2 separate regions of the Homo sapiens genome follow, and region 1 is linked to region 2. The links come from fine-mapping of genetic effects on gene expression. A gene starts in region 2. The other region holds a variant in brackets. All regions are shown on one strand. Distances are from middle to middle. Region 1 overlaps RINT1 (RAD50 interactor 1). Region 2 holds the start of PUS7 (pseudouridine synthase 7).

Region 1 (8,334 bases), 25 kb after region 2:
ATATAATATAGAAATCTTTGTTTTTAGGCCAGGTGCAGTGGCTCACACCTGTAATCCCAGCACTTTGGGAGGCCGAGGCGGGCAGATCACGAGGTCAGGAGTTTGAGACCAGCCTGACCAACATGGTGAAACCCCGTCTCTACTAAAAATACAAAAAAAAAAAAGAAATTAGCCAGGCATGGTGGCGCGTGCCTGTAATCCCAGCTACTTGGGAGGCTGAGGCAGGGGAATTGCTTGGACTCGGGAGGCAGAGGTTGCAGTGAGCTGAGGTTGTGCCATTGCACTGCAGCCTAGGCAGCAAGAGCGAAACTCCGTCTCAAAAAAAAAACAAAAAAAACAAAAAAACTTTGTTTTGCATGTATGAGGAGTTTTACATATAAAGTGGTTTAGAACATCTCATTCTTGTTTAGATAAATTATTTGCAGTGAAGGAATTTTAAACCTTGCTTTATTTTACTGCATTTCTCCTTGTCCCTCAGAAAGGAAATATCAGTAAGGGGCAATGTTAATAACTTTATTAAGTAAAATACGTTATTTGAAAACCTCACTCTTGTAGTAGCCAAAGTAATAGATTAACTAAATTAGGTCCATGGTTATTGATAAACTTTTCTTTTTTCTTCTTTTTTTTAACATTTATTTTATTTATTTTAATTTTCTTTTTATTTTTTTTTGAGTTGGAATCTTCCTCTGTTGCCCAGGCTGGAGTGCAGTGGCACAATCTCAGCTCACTGCAACCTCCACCTCCCGGGTTCAAGCGATTCTCCTGCCTTGGCCTCCCGAGTAGCTAGGACTACAGGTGTATGCCACCACGCCCAGCTAATTTTTGTATTTTTAGTAGAGATAGGGTTTCACTATGTTGGCTAGGCTGGTCTTGAACTCCTGACCTCAAGTCATCTGCCTGCCTTGGCCTCCCAAAGTGCTGGGATTACAGGTGTGAGCCACTGCACCTGGCCTTGATAAACTCTTCAGATATCTGAATTGTTTATAAGGGAAATATGCCGAGGGATTTATATTAGAAATAGGGATCAAATTCATAAGCAGGTAGAGCACAGTTATTTTTCTGTCTTTAATAATGTGTTATTTCCCTGAGGTCTTTTATGATAATCTCTCCATTTCCAGCTTTCCTTTAGAGCTTCTGGGATTTTCTTCATCTCTAAATTTTTTTATAATGGCCTATTTTTATTCTGATGTACATTGTCTTTTTTTCAAGTAGTTTCTTCTTGCTAGAATTAGCATCCTTACATTAGCTCTGTTTCTTGGATACTATAGTATAGCACTATCACTCTGAGTGAACCTTGTTTCTCTAGCTTTTCCTATGTTGTAAATGTCATTCATACTTTAGTGTTGTGAGGAAATCTATTTCATTCCTTCCTTAAAAGCAGTACTCCTGCCGGGCATGGTGGCTCATGCCGTAGTCCTAGCACTTTGAGAGGCTGAGGTGGGCAGATCGCTTGAGCTCTGAATTCTGTGACCAGTCTGGGCAACATGGCAAAACCCCATCTCTGTTTAAAAAAAAAAAAATCAGCCAGGCTTGGTGGTGAGCACCCATAGTCCCAGCTACTCGGGAGGCTGAGGTAGGAGGATCGCTTGAGCCCCGAGAGGTTAAGATTGCAATGAGCCGTGATTGTACCACTGCACTGCAGCCTAGGTGACAGAGTGAGACTCTTTTAAAAAAAAAAAAAAGGCAGTACTCATATTCTGTTTGTACATTTGAAATTCTTCTGTAATATTTGTATATATATATATATATTTTTTTTTTTTTGAGATGGAGTCTTACTCTGTTGCTGAGGCTGGAGTGCAGCGGCACCCTGTCAGCTCACTGCAACCTCTGTCTTCTGGGTTCAAGCAATTCTCCTGCCTCAGCCTCCTGAGTAGCTGGGATTACAGGTGCCCATGACCACGCCTGGCTAGTTTTTATATTTTTAGTAGAGACGGGAAGGGTTTCACCAAGTTGGCCAGGCTGGTCTCGAACTCCTGACCTCCGGTGATCCACCCATGTTGGCCTCCCAAAGAGGCCACCACGCCTGGCCTCTTTTTCTTTGAGACGGAGTCTCACTCTGTTGCCAGGCTAGAGTGCAGTGGCATGATCTTGGCTCACTGCAACCTCCGCCTCCCGGGTTCAAGCAGTTCTCCTGCCTCAGCCTCCCGAGTAGCTGGGATTACAGGTGCCCACCACCATGCCTGGCTAGTTTTTATATTTTTAGTAGAGATGGGGGATGGGGAAGGGGGGGCGGGGGGCGTTTCACCAAGTTGGCCAGGCTGGTCTCAAACTCCTGACCTCCGGAGATCCACCCATGTTGGCCTCCCAAAGTGCTGGGATTACAGGGTTGAGCCACCAAGCCCCGCCTGGAATTATATTTCTTTGAAGTGGGAAATCAAGTTCAGCTGGGCAAAGTATGTAACAATTGAAGACCATCATACTTGACTTTACCAGATACTACCACATTATTCCCTTGGATTAAGATACTGAAGACTTTGTAAAAGGCAGATTTATCAGAAATGAGTGGTGCCCAAAGGAATATGACACAAAACAGGTCTGTCAGGAGGAGTAGGAAGGGAAAGGTCCCGGGAGAGGTCTTGAACATAGGCTGCAGGCTGCTGCTCTTAGAAGAATGCAGAAGTAGAGGACTCTAGGCTCCCAGAGAGGCCTTGGTAAAAGGCCTCAGGGTGGTGCTTTGTTAAAAAACAAAGGCTACCTCAGGGTGGTGCTTCATTCTTCCTTGGATGTAACTTTATATAAAACATGAAGAAGAAGCACTTTTTCCGAATTTGAAATTATTCTGAGCAATCCGTTCTTTAAATTTGCTTTCGGCTGGGCACGGTGACTCACGCCTCTAATCCCAGCACTTTGGGAGGCCGAGGCGGTCGGATCACTTGAGGTCAGGAGTTCAAGACCAGCTTGGCCAACATGGTGAAACCCTGTCTCTACTAAAAATACAAAAAATTTAGCCAGGCATGGGGGCGCATGCCTGTAATCCCAGCTACTGTGGAGGCTGAGGCGGGAGAATCACTTGAACCTGGGACACAGAATTTGCATTGAGCCAAATCATGCCACTGCACTCCAACCTGGGCAACAGAGTGAGACTCTGTCTCAAAAGAAAAAAAAATTTGCTTTACTTTGTTTACAGTGATAACATTCAGCAATATCTGATGACCAATAATGTACCGGAGGCAGCCTCCACTCTAGTGTCTATGGCAGAACTTGACATTAAACTTCAGGAATCATCTTGTACTCATCTTCTTGGTTTCATGAGAGCCACAGTTAAATTCTGGCATAAAATTCTCAAGGACAAGCTTACAAGGTAGGGAATTTACCCATATTTTGTGGTAATTGCTTTCCGATGGGTATTTGGTGATCATTTGGTGATGTACTGAAATGTATGTGTTACTTTTCCATTGCAGTGATTTTGAGGAAATTTTAGCACAGCTTCATTGGCCATTCATCGCACCCCCTCAATCACAAACTGTTGGCTTAAGTCGACCTGCCAGTGCCCCGGAGATATACAGTTACCTGGAGACACTGTTTTGTCAGCTTTTGAAACTACAAACCTCGTATCTTTGTTGCAGCTGAAAACTTACTAAAATTTCTTTTTTCTAGAATGGGTTTGTGGCTAGAGAGTAAAACTTTTTCAAAGTGGCCAAGAAAGCCAAATAAGAATCCTGTGTTTGGACTTGGTCTGTAAATGTCCACTGAGTGGTGGACTGTACTCTTGCAAAGTGAATTGCTTGTAGGTGTGAGGGCTGTAAGGAAGAGTTCCGGGATACATGACTGATCCAAGTTCATAGCACAAAAAGGTCTCTTGGGGCAACAGAACAAATGGGCAATTGGGAGGAAACCTTTAGTGTCATAGCGTGAATTTAATCAAATGATACTTGAATTTTTTTTGTTACTATTTTAGGAAAGATTTATAGATTAATTCTAATACCATTTTTGTGCTTTTTTTTTTTTTTTTTTGAGATGGAGTTTCGCTCTTGTTGCCCAGGCTGGAATGAAGTGGCGTGATCTCATGATCTCGGCTCACCACAGCCTCCACCTCCCGGGTTCAAGCGATTCTCCTGCCTCAGCCTCCCGAGTAGCTGGGATTACAGGCGTGCACCACTATGCCCAGCTAATTTTGTATTTTTAGTAGAGACGGGGTTTTTCCATGTTGGTCAGGCTGGCCTCGAACTCCTGACCTCAGGTGATCCACCCGCCTCAGCTTCCCAAAGTGCTGGGATTACAGGTGAGAGCCACTGCACCTGGCTCATTTTTGTGCTTTTTTTAAAGACATGGTCTCACTTTGTCACCCAGGCTGAAGTGCAGTGGTGCAGTCATGGCTCACTGCAGCCTTGACCACCCAGGCTCAGTTGATTCTCCCACCTCTTCTTCCTGTGTAGCTGGGACTACAGGCACGTGCCACCATGCCC[C/A]GCTAATTTTTGTTGTTTTTTGTAGAGATAGGGTTTTGCCGTATTGCCTAGGCACGTCTCAAATTCCTGTGAAGTGGCCCAAGTGATTAGCCTGCTTCAGCCTCCCAAAGTGCTGGGATTACAGGCATGATTCACTATCATCATGCCTGGCTTTTTGTGCATTTTAACTGAATGTATATTCAATATAAAGAATTAACTGTATGTTTATTCAATATAAAATTAGGTTACATATTATTTGCATCATAATTAACTCTACTGAGTATCTGATACATTTGTTGGAAAAATTTATTGTGTGTGTATACATACATATGTGTGTGTATATTAGGTATGCTTTTGATTCTTTTTCCTTGACTTGATTATGTCAGAGATGAATTACTTACTGAGCCAAAGCAACTCCCAGAAAAATACTCTCTTCCTGCCTCCCCTTCTGTCATCCTGCCCATCCAGGTTATGCTGACTCCTCTTCAGAAGAGGTTCAGGTATCACTTCAGAGGGAACCGGCAGACTAATGTGTTAAGCAAGGTGTGTTTTGCCAGCTCTTGTCCTTGGTTTTTATTGGTAACAAATGTTAGAGTTTCTATACCTTTGCTGGTTTAAGTTAAAATCTGACTCTCTTCACATTTCTGTTTTTTTTCTAAAGGGCTACATTCCTGTTTTGTTACTGCTGTTCATACATATAATTGAGGACTTGTGTTCATATACTGTAGGAAAAATGGTATTTCCGCTCTTGGGCATCAGATATTGCTGAGTTATCATTGCAAAACAAAGCAAAGCAAATAGTAAGCACTTGGTATTTCTTTTCTTTTTTTTTTTTTGTGAGTTGGAGTCTCGCTCTGTCACCCAGGCTGGAGTGCAGTGGCACAATCTCTGCTCACTGCAACCTCCACCTCCCAGGTTCAAGCGATTCTCCTGCCTCAGCCTCCCAAGTAGCTGGGACTACAGGCACATGTCACCACACTGGACTAATTTTTGTAATTTTAGTAGAGATGGGTTTCACCATATTGGTCAGGCTGGTCTGGAACTCCTGACCTCAGGTGATCCACCTGACTTAGCCTCCCAAAGTGCTGGGATTACAGGAGTGAGCCACTGCGCCTGGCATGTACTTGGTATTTCTGCTCTTAAACCTGTATAAGACATGCGTAGTTTTTGTAATGCAGACTAGCAATTTTTTTTTTTTGGAACGAAGTTTCACTCTTGTTGCCCAGGCTGGAGCGCAATGGTGTGATCTCGGCTCACTGCAACCTCTGCCTCCCGCGTTCAAGCGATTCTCCTGCCTCAGCCTCTTGAGTAGCTGGGATTACAGGTGCCCACCACCACGCCCAGCTAATTTTTGTATATTTAGGTGAGACGGGGTTTCACCATGTTGACCAGTCTGGTCTTGAACTTCTGACCTCAGCTGATCCACCCACCTCGGCCTCCCAAAGTGCTGGGATTACAGGCATGAGCTGCCACGCCTGGCCAGCAATTTTTTTCTTGATTTACTTTTTGAAAATAAAAACCATAAGAAAATAATATTAAAATTATTTTCAAATGCTATTTCAAAAAATATAGGCCATCAGTTCTTTGTAATACTCATCATTTTACATATTATTGAAGTGCTAGGTTTTAAATATATATGGCATTGTAAATTTATGAGTTTATTGACTTAAGTCATATTATTGAAATTTGTTGGGAGTACATTAGCAAACATTTGATTATTAAGCCTTGCAGGAGTTTAAAATTTGGAGTAGAAATTGTGCTCTTACATACAGGAATTTTCAACTAATTTTTATAAGTGTTGTGCATATACAATTAAATAGAACCATGTAATTGTAACTTTCTAATTGGAATGACTTAAGAATTCAAACTATTTTCCTCCTTCCTTAGCCAGAATGGTACTTGGCTCAAGTACTTATGTGGATTGGAAACCATACTGAATTTCTGGATGAGAAGATTCAGCCAATATTAGACAAAGTAGGCTCTTTGGTAAACGCAAGGGTAAGAGACTCAGTCATAAGTGTTTCTGTTTTAGAACTGTATGTGTGCATGGATAACTTTTTATTTACATACCTCATGTTTGTGTATTTTTTTAGCTTGAATTTTCTCGGGGCCTTATGATGCTGGTTCTTGAGAAGTTAGCCACTGATATTCCTTGTCTGCTATATGATGACAATCTCTTCTGTCATTTGGTGGATGAAGTACTCTTGTTTGAAAGGGAGCTACACAGTGTTCATGGCTATCCTGGCACTTTTGCTAGTTGTATGCATATTCTATCAGAGGAAACCTGTTTTCAGAGATGGTTGACGGTGGAGAGAAAATGTAAGTGCTGATGTGGCCAGATGGTAGGGAGATATGTCTGTTTCTGTGGGTATACATTTTTGATATTTTTCTTCTCCAGTTCTAAATAGGAACTAGAGCCATTTGAAATTTCCTTTTCAGGGTTTTCTGTTTCCTTCAGAGATAATCTTTTCTTTACTTCACATGAAACTTCCATTTTTCCTGAAATTACACTCTACATATTTCTAGAGTGGAATAGTCAAGCCAGTGGGGTGTTTGTTTTATAGATTTTATCATATAATTTATTTTATTTTTATTTATTTATTTTGGGACAGACTCTTGCTCTGTTGTCCAGGCTAAAGTGCAGTAGTTTGATCTCAGCTCATTGCAACCTCCACCCCCTGCGTTCAAGCGATTCTCCTGTCTCAGCCTCCCGAGTAGTTAGGATTACAGGCACGCACTACCACGCCTGGCTAATTTTTCTGTTTTTAGGAGTGACAGGGTTACAACATGTTGGCCAGGCTGGTCTGGAACTCCTGACTTCAAGTAATCCACCTGCCTTGGCCTCCCAAAGTGTCAGAATATTTTATTTTTTTATTTTTGAGATAGGGTCTCACTTTGTCACCGAGGCTAGAGTGGAGTGGGCCGATCATGGCTTACTGCAGCCTCGACCTCTGGGGCTCAGGTGATCCTCCTGCCTCAGCCACCCCAGTAGCTGGGAGTATAGGTATATGCAAGCCATGCCTGGCTACTTTTTGTATTTTTTGTAGAGATGGGGTTTCCCTGGGGTTTTGCCCAAGCTGGTTGTGAACTCCTAGACTCAAGCAATCCACCCACCTTGGCCTCCTGGAGTGCTGGGATTACTGGTGTGAGCCACCGTGCCTGGCCAATAGAATATTTTTTACTGTAGCTTATCTAGTCAACATAACTATTTTCAGAATTTGGGGATGGGAGTAAAGTATCCTGTTTAAAGCATTAATTAAGTTAAATTTAGTACAACCAGTGGGATATTGTAGGTTTGTTTCTTTTTTATAGAAAAGCCATCATTCCTAAAAAATTACAAGTTGAATAATTAGGAACGACTGTAACTACTTAATTGACATAATTGTTTTGTCTGCTTATCAGTTGCTCTTCAAAAAATGGACTCAATGCTTTCCTCAGAAGCTGCCTGGGTATCGCAATATAAGGATATCACTGACGTGGATGAAATGAAAGTTCCAGATTGTGCAGAAACTTTTATGACTCTACTCTTGGTTATAACTGGTAAGTATGTCTTTTAAGATATGACTTTGTTTTAAAAGTACTGTTTTCACGTGGTAGTTTTTAAAGTAGCTCAGTAGGCTGGGTGCAGTGGCTCATGCCTGTAATCCTAGCACTTTGAGAGGCTGAGACGGGCAGGTTGCTTGAGCCCAGGAGTTCGAGAACAGCCTGGGGTACATGGTGAAATGCCCTCTCTTCCGAAAAAATACAGAAATTAGCCAGTTGTGGTGGTGTGTGCCTGTAGTCCCAGCTACTTGGGAGGCTGAGGTGGGAGGATTTTTTGAGCATGGGAGGTAGAGGTTGCAGTGAGCCATGATCACGCCACTGCAGTCCAGCCTTGGTGACAGAGTGAGACCCTGTCAATAAAGTAATCAATAAATAAGTGGCTCAGCAAATTAATATTATATGATGG
Region 2 (8,334 bases):
TTTTGCCATGTTGCCCACTAGTCTCAAACTCCTGAGCTCAAGTGATCTGCCCTGCCTCAACTGGGATTACAGGTGTGCACCACCGCCCAGGCCAAACAGTCCCTTATTAATTAATTCCTCCAAAATAAACATCAGAAAAACAGCCATTAGTCTTTTTTTGAATTATTTTTTATTTTATTTTGTATATTTTTTGAGACGGAGTCTCACTCTATTGCCCAGGCTGGAGTGCAGTGGCGCAATCTCGGCTCACTGCAACCTCTGCCTCCCGGGTACACGAGATTCTCCTGCCTCAGCCTCCTGAGTAGCTGGGATTACAGGCGCCCGCCACAACACCAGGCTAATTTTTTGTATTTTTAATAGAGATGGGCTTTCACCGTGTTATCCAAGATTGTCTCGAACTCCTGACCTCATGATTCGCCCGCCTCGGTCTCCCAAAGGGCTGGGATTACAGGCCTGAGCCACCGCGCCCAGCCTACAAAAACAGCCATTAGTCTTAATTCTATCATATTATATTTCAAAACTATCCACAACTTTCACTTTGTAAATACATCTTTCCTCCATCCCCTGCAAATTATCAGTAATCTCTATAGCTCTCACAATAGTGAGCATTTTCTTTAGGGCCAGAGCACAGAGAACACACTAATTTTTTTTTTTTTGGAGATGGAGTTTTCCTCTGTTGCCCAGGCTGGAGTGCAGTGGTGCAGTCTCGGCTCACCGCAATCTCCACTTCCAGCGTTCCGGCGATTCTCCTACCTCAGCCTCCCGAGTAGCTGGGATTACAGGCATGGGCTAAAATTACCACATCCAGCTAATTTTTGTATTTTTAGTAGAGAGGGGGTTTCGCCATGTTGGCCAGGATGGTCTCAAACTACTGACCTGACCTCAAACGAGCTGCCTGCCTCGGCCTCCCAGAGTGCTGGGATTACAGGCATGATGTCACCAGGCCCGGCAGACACACTGCATTCTAATATGCAAAATCATTAAGTCTATGAGGGTCATTCATTCTGCAAATATTTACTGAGCAAGTGTCCTATGTGTCTGGCATTGTTGTAGGTACTGGAAGAAAAGGGTAATACCATTTCCTGTCCTCATGTAGCTTACAATGTATTTGAGAATATATCTGAGAACAAAATAAATCTCAGGACATGCGAGCTCCAAAGAATTAAAACAGGGTAAGGGGCTGAGAGTAAGAGGGGTGTTCTTCAGTGATGCCTCGTCTAAGGAGGAGACTTCTGAGCAAAGACAAGGAAGAACCAGACAGGAAAAGATGTGTGTGAGGAGAGCTCCAGGCAGCCCGAACAGCACGTGTAAAGGACCTGAAACCGGAGCAAACTTAGTCGACAGTATGACCAGCTGGATTGTTCTCTCTCTCTCCTAGGTAAGGAAAAACGCTGCTTCATTAATACAGTACATGCATGCCCCTGCCTCTATCAAAAGACACGTTCAAGGCCGGGTGTGATGGCACACGCCTGTAATCCCAGCACTTCGGAAGGCTGAGGCGGGTGGATCACCTGAAGTCTGAAGTTCAAGACCAGCCTGGCCAACATGGTGAAACCCCGTCTCTACTAAAAATACAAAAATTAGGCGGGGCGCGGTGGCTCACGCCTGTAATCCCAGCACTTTGGGAGGCAGAGGCGGGCAGATCATGAGGTCAGGAAATCGAGACCATCCTGGCTAACACAGTGAAACCCCGCCTCTACTAAAAATATAAAAAATTAGCCGGGCGTGGTGGCGGGCGCCTGTAGTCCCAGCTACTCGGGAGGCTGAGGCAGGAGAATGGCGTGAACCCGGGAGGCGGAGCCTGCAGTGAGCCGAGATCGCGCCACTGCAATACATCTCCAGCCCTCAAGCTGGGTGAATGCTTAACGAGTGGATGGAGGTGCTGCCTCTGCAATACATGTGGGCGACAGAGCGAGACTGTCTCAAAATAAATAAATAAATAAATAAATAAATAAATAAATAAATAAAAATACAAAAATTAGCTGGGCATGGTGGCGTGCACATGTAATCCCAGCTACTCCGGAGGCTGAGGCAGGAGAATCGCTTGAACCCAGGAGGCTGAGGTTGCAGTGAGCCAAGATCGTGCCATTGCACTCCAGCCTGGGTGATGGAGTGAGACTCCGTCTAAAAAAAATAAATCAAAAAACAAAGATATGTTCAAGGCCGAGTGTGGTTGCTCAAGCCTGTAATTCCAGCACTTTGGGAGGTCAAAGCAGGAGGATTGCTTAAGGTCAGGAGTTTGAGGCCAGGCTGGGCAACACAGCGAGACCCTGTGTGGTGGCACATGCCTATAGTCCCAGCTACTTGGGAGGCTGAGGTGAGAGGATTGCTTGAGCCCAGGAGTTCAAGGCTGCAGTGAGCGATGATCACGCAACTGCACTCCAGCCTGGGCAACAAGAGCAAAATTCTGTCTCAAAAAAATTAAAAAAATAAAAATAAAAAAACCAAAAACATGTTCACAAGGAGTTGTTAAGTACGTACTGTTGGCTACTTTCCTAATGTTTGAACCTAACAATTGCCTAACCAACCCCTTTTCAATAGTGTTGTACAGTCTGATTTTCGACAGATCCCTCAATAGTCGAGGCTCCCCCAGGCCAATGGGGCATAGTCATTTCATAGATGATTAGAGGCTTGGGGATGGGGGGGAGGGAACCTTAGTAACCCTTTATTTTTGGAATGGAAAAAAAAAGTAGTCTGACGGGACCAAATATTTTAAAAACTAAACTCTTTGCCAACCCTACTCGGCAGGCAACGAAGGTGTGCTTCTAAACACCTCTGCGCAGGGCTGACGAGGAGGACTCGAATTTCAGCTTGCACAGCAGCACCTCCATCCACTCGTTAAGCATTCACCCAGCTTGAGGGCTGGAGAAAGCACTCTGAGTCTGCAGCCCGTCCACTCCTACTCTGGGAAATGCATACAAAGCAAGCAGTCCCCAGAGCCCGCGTGGCGCCTAGTAGGCTCCCAGTGAGCGGCGACGCAGGACACAGGGGTGGAACACGTGGGCTGGACCCACAGAAGGCAGGCGCGGCGAAGCAGTGGCACCGTGAAGGGCTTCAGGGCCAGTGTTCCTCTGACGGAGGGACAAGAGTTTAGGGAGCGTCCGGGGCAAAGAAAGGGAGGAGTGGGAAGGGGGCCCCCGGGGGACAGCGCCGCGCGGGGAGGAGGGGAGCGCTCGGGCGCGGCGCCTCCGGACGACTGGCCGGGCAGAGCGGAGCGGGGAGCGGGGAGCGGAGAGCGGCGCCTGCACCGCCGAAGCGCAGGACCCACTGGGTTCCAACCGTGCTCCCGCTGGCACGATCCATAATGGAGGCGCCGCGGGCTCTGACCACTGCGGGGCCGCCTTCCCAGTCCGCCTTCCCAGTCCGCACTGCCTCTTGGGGCGGGGCCCTGGGGCTGGGGCTGGGGCCAGGGCCAGGCCGAGGAGCCCCGGCGGCCGCGGGGAGGCCGCGCACTTACCCGGAGCCTGGGAGCGCGGGCGCGGCGTGAGCTGGGCGGCGAGGTGGCCAGCGCTCTGGTTGGGACGCAAGAGAGCGGCGAAGGCCACTTGGATGAGCCAGCGGCTAGGGCGGCCAGGCAAAAGCAGCGCTTTCCGCGCGGAGGACCAGATGCGCTCCAGCCGACTCACCGGCGGCCGGGCTCGCACACGTGCGGCGCAGCGACGCGCCGCGGCCCGACTGGACCCGCCCCGGGGGCGGAGTCCGCTCCCTGCCGCCGGCCCCGCCCCCGGCCCACCCACTCGGAGCGGCCTGCAAGCCAGGGAGCGCCCCAACGCGGACTCCCAGCCTACGCGCGTTCACCCTGGACCTTCCTCGCGACCGCGCCTGAGTCGCACCAGCGGCAGAGAGCGATTTCACCAAGCATCTAAGAGTTCTTTAGATCTTTAGGAAGTCTAAGGCAGCGATTGCCTCCTTTGGTGTTATATTCTAAGTGTTTCCTTCACATAGTTGTGGCCCTTTCACGTTGCACCGACCACGCAGTTGACAATAATGGAAAGAGAATCACTTTAGGGACTAAATATTGTTCTACATTTGATCCTGGGAATGTAGTGGATCTAAAAGCACCATCTTCCTACTTCTTACCGCTCTGGCTTGATGGCTTGCCATAGGATCTGCTTCAAGAAACCGGATCATAGGTTTTTTTTGTTTTGGTTTGGTTTGGTTTTGACAGAGTCTCGCTCTGTCGCACAGGCTGGAGTGCGGTGGCGTGAACACAGTTCACTGCAGCCTCGACCTCCCAGGCTCAAGCAATCCTCCCACTTCAGTATCCCAAGTAGCTGGGACTACAGGTGCATCCCACCGCACCCAGGCTAATTTTTTTGGGGGTGGGGGGTAGAGACAAGATTTCACTATGTTGCCCAGGCTCTAATAGTTTTTTTGCTTTTTGTTTGTTTGTTTGTTTTTTGAGACGGAGTCTTGCTCTGTCGCCCAGGCTGGAGTGCAATGGCGCGATCGCTGCTCACCGCAACCTCCGCCACCCGGGTTCAAGCGATTCTCCTGCCTCAGCCTCCCGAGTAGCTGGGATTACTGGCGCACGCCACCATGCCCGGCTTATTTTTTGTATTTTTAGTAGAGTACGGGGTTTCACTATGTTGGCCAGGCTGGTCTCGAACTCTTGACTTCGTGATCCGCCCGCCTCCGCCTCTGTGTTGAGATTACAGGCGTGAGCCACCGCTCCCAGCCTCTAATAGTTTTTCCGTTTTGTTTTATTTTGTTTGAGAGAGAGTCTCACTCTGTTGCAGGGTTCAAGCGATTCTCCTGCATCAGCCTCCCGAGTAGCTGGGCCTACGAGTGCTTGACATCATGCCAGACTAATTTTTTTGACGGGGTTTTTGCCTGTTGGCCTTGAACTCCTGACCTCAAGTGATTTGCCTGCCTAGGCCTCCCAAAGTACTGGGATTATAGGCATGAGCCACCATGCCCTGCCCAATTTGTTTTTTTGTTTTGTTTTTTACACAATGAAATATACTATTACCGGCCGGGCGCAGTGGCTCACGCCTGTAATCCCAGCACTTTGGGAGGCCGAGGTGGGCGGATCATGAGGTCAGGAGTTTGAGACCAGCCTGGCCAACATGGTGAAACCCCGTCTCTACTAAAAATACAAAAAATTACCCAGACGTGGTGGCACGCGCCTGTAATCCCAGCTACTTGGGAGGCTGAGGCAGGAGAATCGCTTGAACTCAGGAGGCGGAGGTTGCAGTGAGCTGAGATCGCACCATTGCACTCTAGCTTGGGCAACAAGATGGAAACTCTGTCTCAAAAAAAAAAAAAGAAATATATTATTACCATACAATTCAGCAATTACACTCCTTGATATTTACCTAAAGGAGTTGAAAACTATGTTCACACAAAAACCTGCACAAGTATGTTTATAGCTGCATTATTCATAATTGCCAAAACTTAAGGACGGGCCGGGTATGGTAGCTCACGCCTGTAATTCCAGCACTTTGGGAGCCCGAGGTGGGCAGATCACGATGTCAGGAGTTCAAGACCAGCCTGGCCAAGATGGTGAAACCCCCATCTCTACTAAAAATACAAAAATTAGCCAGGCGTGATGGTGGGCGCCTGTAATCCCAGCTACTCAGGAGGCGGAGGCAGAAAATTGCTTGAACCCAGGAGGCAGAGGTTGTGGTGAGCCAAGATCATGCCACTGCACCCCAACCTGGGGGACAGAGTGAGACTCCGTCTCAAAAAAAAAAAGACCAAGATGTCCTTCAGTAGCTGAATAAACTGTGCTGTATCCAAACAATGGAATATTATTTGGTGCCAAAAAGAAATGATCTTAGCAAGCCATGAAAAGACATGGAGGAAACATAAATAAATATTTTTTATTTTATGTATTTATTTATTCTGAGATCTAAATAGATAAGGTGATCTGCCCACCTCGGCCTCCCGAAGTGCTGGGATTACAGGCGTAAGCCACCATGCCCAGCCTTAAACGCATATTACTAAGTGAAAGAAACCAATCTGGGCCAGGCATGGTGACTCAGGCCTGTAATCACAGCATTTTGTGAGGCTGAGGCAGGTGGATCACTTGAGGTCAGGAGTTCGAGACCAGCCTGGCCAACACCGTGAAACCCCATCTCTACCAAAAATACAAAAAATTAGCCAGGCATGGTGGCACACACCTGTAATCCCAGCTACGCGGGAGGCTGAGGCGGGAGAATTGCTTGAACCTGGGAGGTGGAGGTTGGGGTGCGTCGGGATCATGCTATTGCACTCCAGCCTGAGCGACAGAGTAAGACTGTCTAGAAAACAACAACAACAACAACAACAAAAAAAAAAAACAAAAAAAATCTGAAAAGGACACGAGCTATATGAATCCAACTAAATGACAAAATGACATTCTAAAAAAGGCAAAACTATATAAGACAGTAATAAAATTAGTGGTCGCCAGGAGTTAGGAGAAAGGGAAGGATGAATAGGTGGAGCACAGAGAATTTTTAGGGAAGTGAAACTATTCTGTATGATACTGTAATGCTGGCTGTATGTCATGATACATTTGTCCAAGCCCATAAAATCTACAACAGGGGTCCCCAGCCCCCCCAAGTCACGGACTGGTACCAGTCAGTGTGGCCTTTTGGGAACCAGGCTGCACTGCAGCATTCCCGCCTGAGCTCTGCCTCCTGTCAGATCAGTGGTGGGATTAGATTCTGATAGGAGCGAGAACCCTACTGTGAACTGCACATGTGAGGGATCTAGGTTGCATGCACCTTATGAGAATCTAATGCCTGATGATCTGAGGTGTAACAGTTCATCCTGAAACCCATTCCTACCCCCTAGTCTGAGGAAAAAATGTCTTCCATGAAACTAGTCCTGGTGCCAAAAACATTGGGAACTGCTGATCTACAGAACTAACAGTGATGTAAACTATGGACTCTGGATGATAATGTGTCAATGTAGGTTCATCAATTATAACAAATGTACCACTTTGGTGAGGGAGAGGCTATGCACGTGTGGGGTCAGGAGGTATATGAGAAATCTCTATACCTTCCTCTCAATTTTGCTGTAAACTAAAACTGCTCTAAAAAAGTAAAGGCTTAAAAAAAAAATCTCTGAGAGGCTGGGTGCAGTGGCTCACACCTGTCATCCCAGTACTTTGGGAGGCTGAGGCGGGCGGATCACAAGGCCAAGAGATCGAGACCATCCTGGCCAACATGGTGAAACCCCATCTCTACTAAAAATACAAAAATTAGCTGGGTGTGGTGGCACTCACCTATAGTCCCAGCTACTTGGGAGGCTGAGGCAGGAGAATCGCTTGAACCTGGGAGACGGAGGTTGCAGTGAGCTGACATCTCACCACTGCACTCCAGCCTGGTGAAACAGCGAGACTCCGTCCCAAAAAAAAAAAAAAAAACTCTGAGAGTGCAGCCCAACTCCTCATAAACAGATTTAGAGGAAAGATTTTTCACATTTCTTTGGCCATTTCTAAGGTTTCTTAGACAAACCTTACTCGTTTTGCATTTTAGCCAAAACTGCCTAGGTCAAGGTACAAGTGAAACATGGATTTTTAGTTTTCTGTTTTCCAAAATGGGCAACTCTTTATTGGTTTTTTAATTAAAATAACACAAAAGTGTTCAAAACCTCTTCCTAGTATCAACTTCTTCTAATAAACATGTAACAGTTGAATGTTGTCTTCAACTTCAAAATTCCATTCTAACACGTCTATTATGTATAACGTACAGTATCCTGCTTTTAACTCCACCTCACACTACAGATTGCTAGGTGCCTATCACACACACTTTCTCTCTTCTTTCATCCTTATTATTGACTACTATGCTGTCCACTTCGGATGCCTTTCTCCATGCCCCAGATAGTAGTTCACTGTTTTCTGTGTTCCCTCAGTCATTGCCAACATTTCTGTTGTCAAAACTATACACTTAATCTTAAATTATTTATTTACCTATTTCCTTTATCAGAAAGTGGATTTTTCAGAAGCCAAAATTTGGGTTTAGGGCATTATTTTTTCTCCTTTAATTTTATTTTTAATTGTTATCAGAGTTATACATGTTGTAATTTAGAGTCAAATAATTCTGTAGAAACTTTGTAAGGTTTGCAATGAAGCAGCAGGGACTGTATTCCCACTTCAGCCCTCACCTGTTTCCATCTTCTCAAAAGCAGTCATTTCACCTCTTTTTTTTTTTTTCTTGAGACAGAGACTTGCTCTGCTGCCCAGGCTGGAGTGCAATGGCATGATCTTGGCTCACTGCAACCTCCGCCTCCCACGTTCAAGCTATTCTCCTGCCTCAGCCTCCTGATTAGCTGGGACTACGGGTACATGCTACCATGCCTGGCTAATTTTTGTATTTTTAGTAGAGATGGGTTTTCGCTATGTTG

Evidence for each region. PIP is the estimated chance that this variant, and not a neighbour inherited with it, causes the effect. A credible set is the group of variants that fine-mapping cannot tell apart.
Region 1: its variant is the best candidate, but not a certain one, in a credible set for the expression of PUS7 in whole blood (INTERVAL, PIP 0.74).

What each region holds. Positions count from the first base shown.
Region 1 is chr7:105,543,783-105,552,116 of GRCh38, forward strand. RINT1 (RAD50 interactor 1) reads left to right here. Exons shown (of 15, transcript NM_021930.6): 5 at 3,128-3,301; 6 at 3,402-3,551; 7 at 4,772-4,928; 8 at 6,273-6,383; 9 at 6,479-6,704; 10 at 7,788-7,925. Among named protein-coding and RNA genes, the nearest start is that of RINT1, 16 kb to the left of the region's middle. The variant C/A (reference allele first, on the strand shown) is at 4,407.
Region 2 is chr7:105,518,595-105,526,928 of GRCh38, forward strand. It overlaps PUS7 (pseudouridine synthase 7), which reads right to left and starts at 3,677. Exons shown (of 16, transcript NM_019042.5): 1 at 3,458-3,677. RefSeq lists enhancers at 1,572-2,189, 2,504-3,158, 4,442-4,942 and silencers at 2,701-2,846, 3,056-3,805.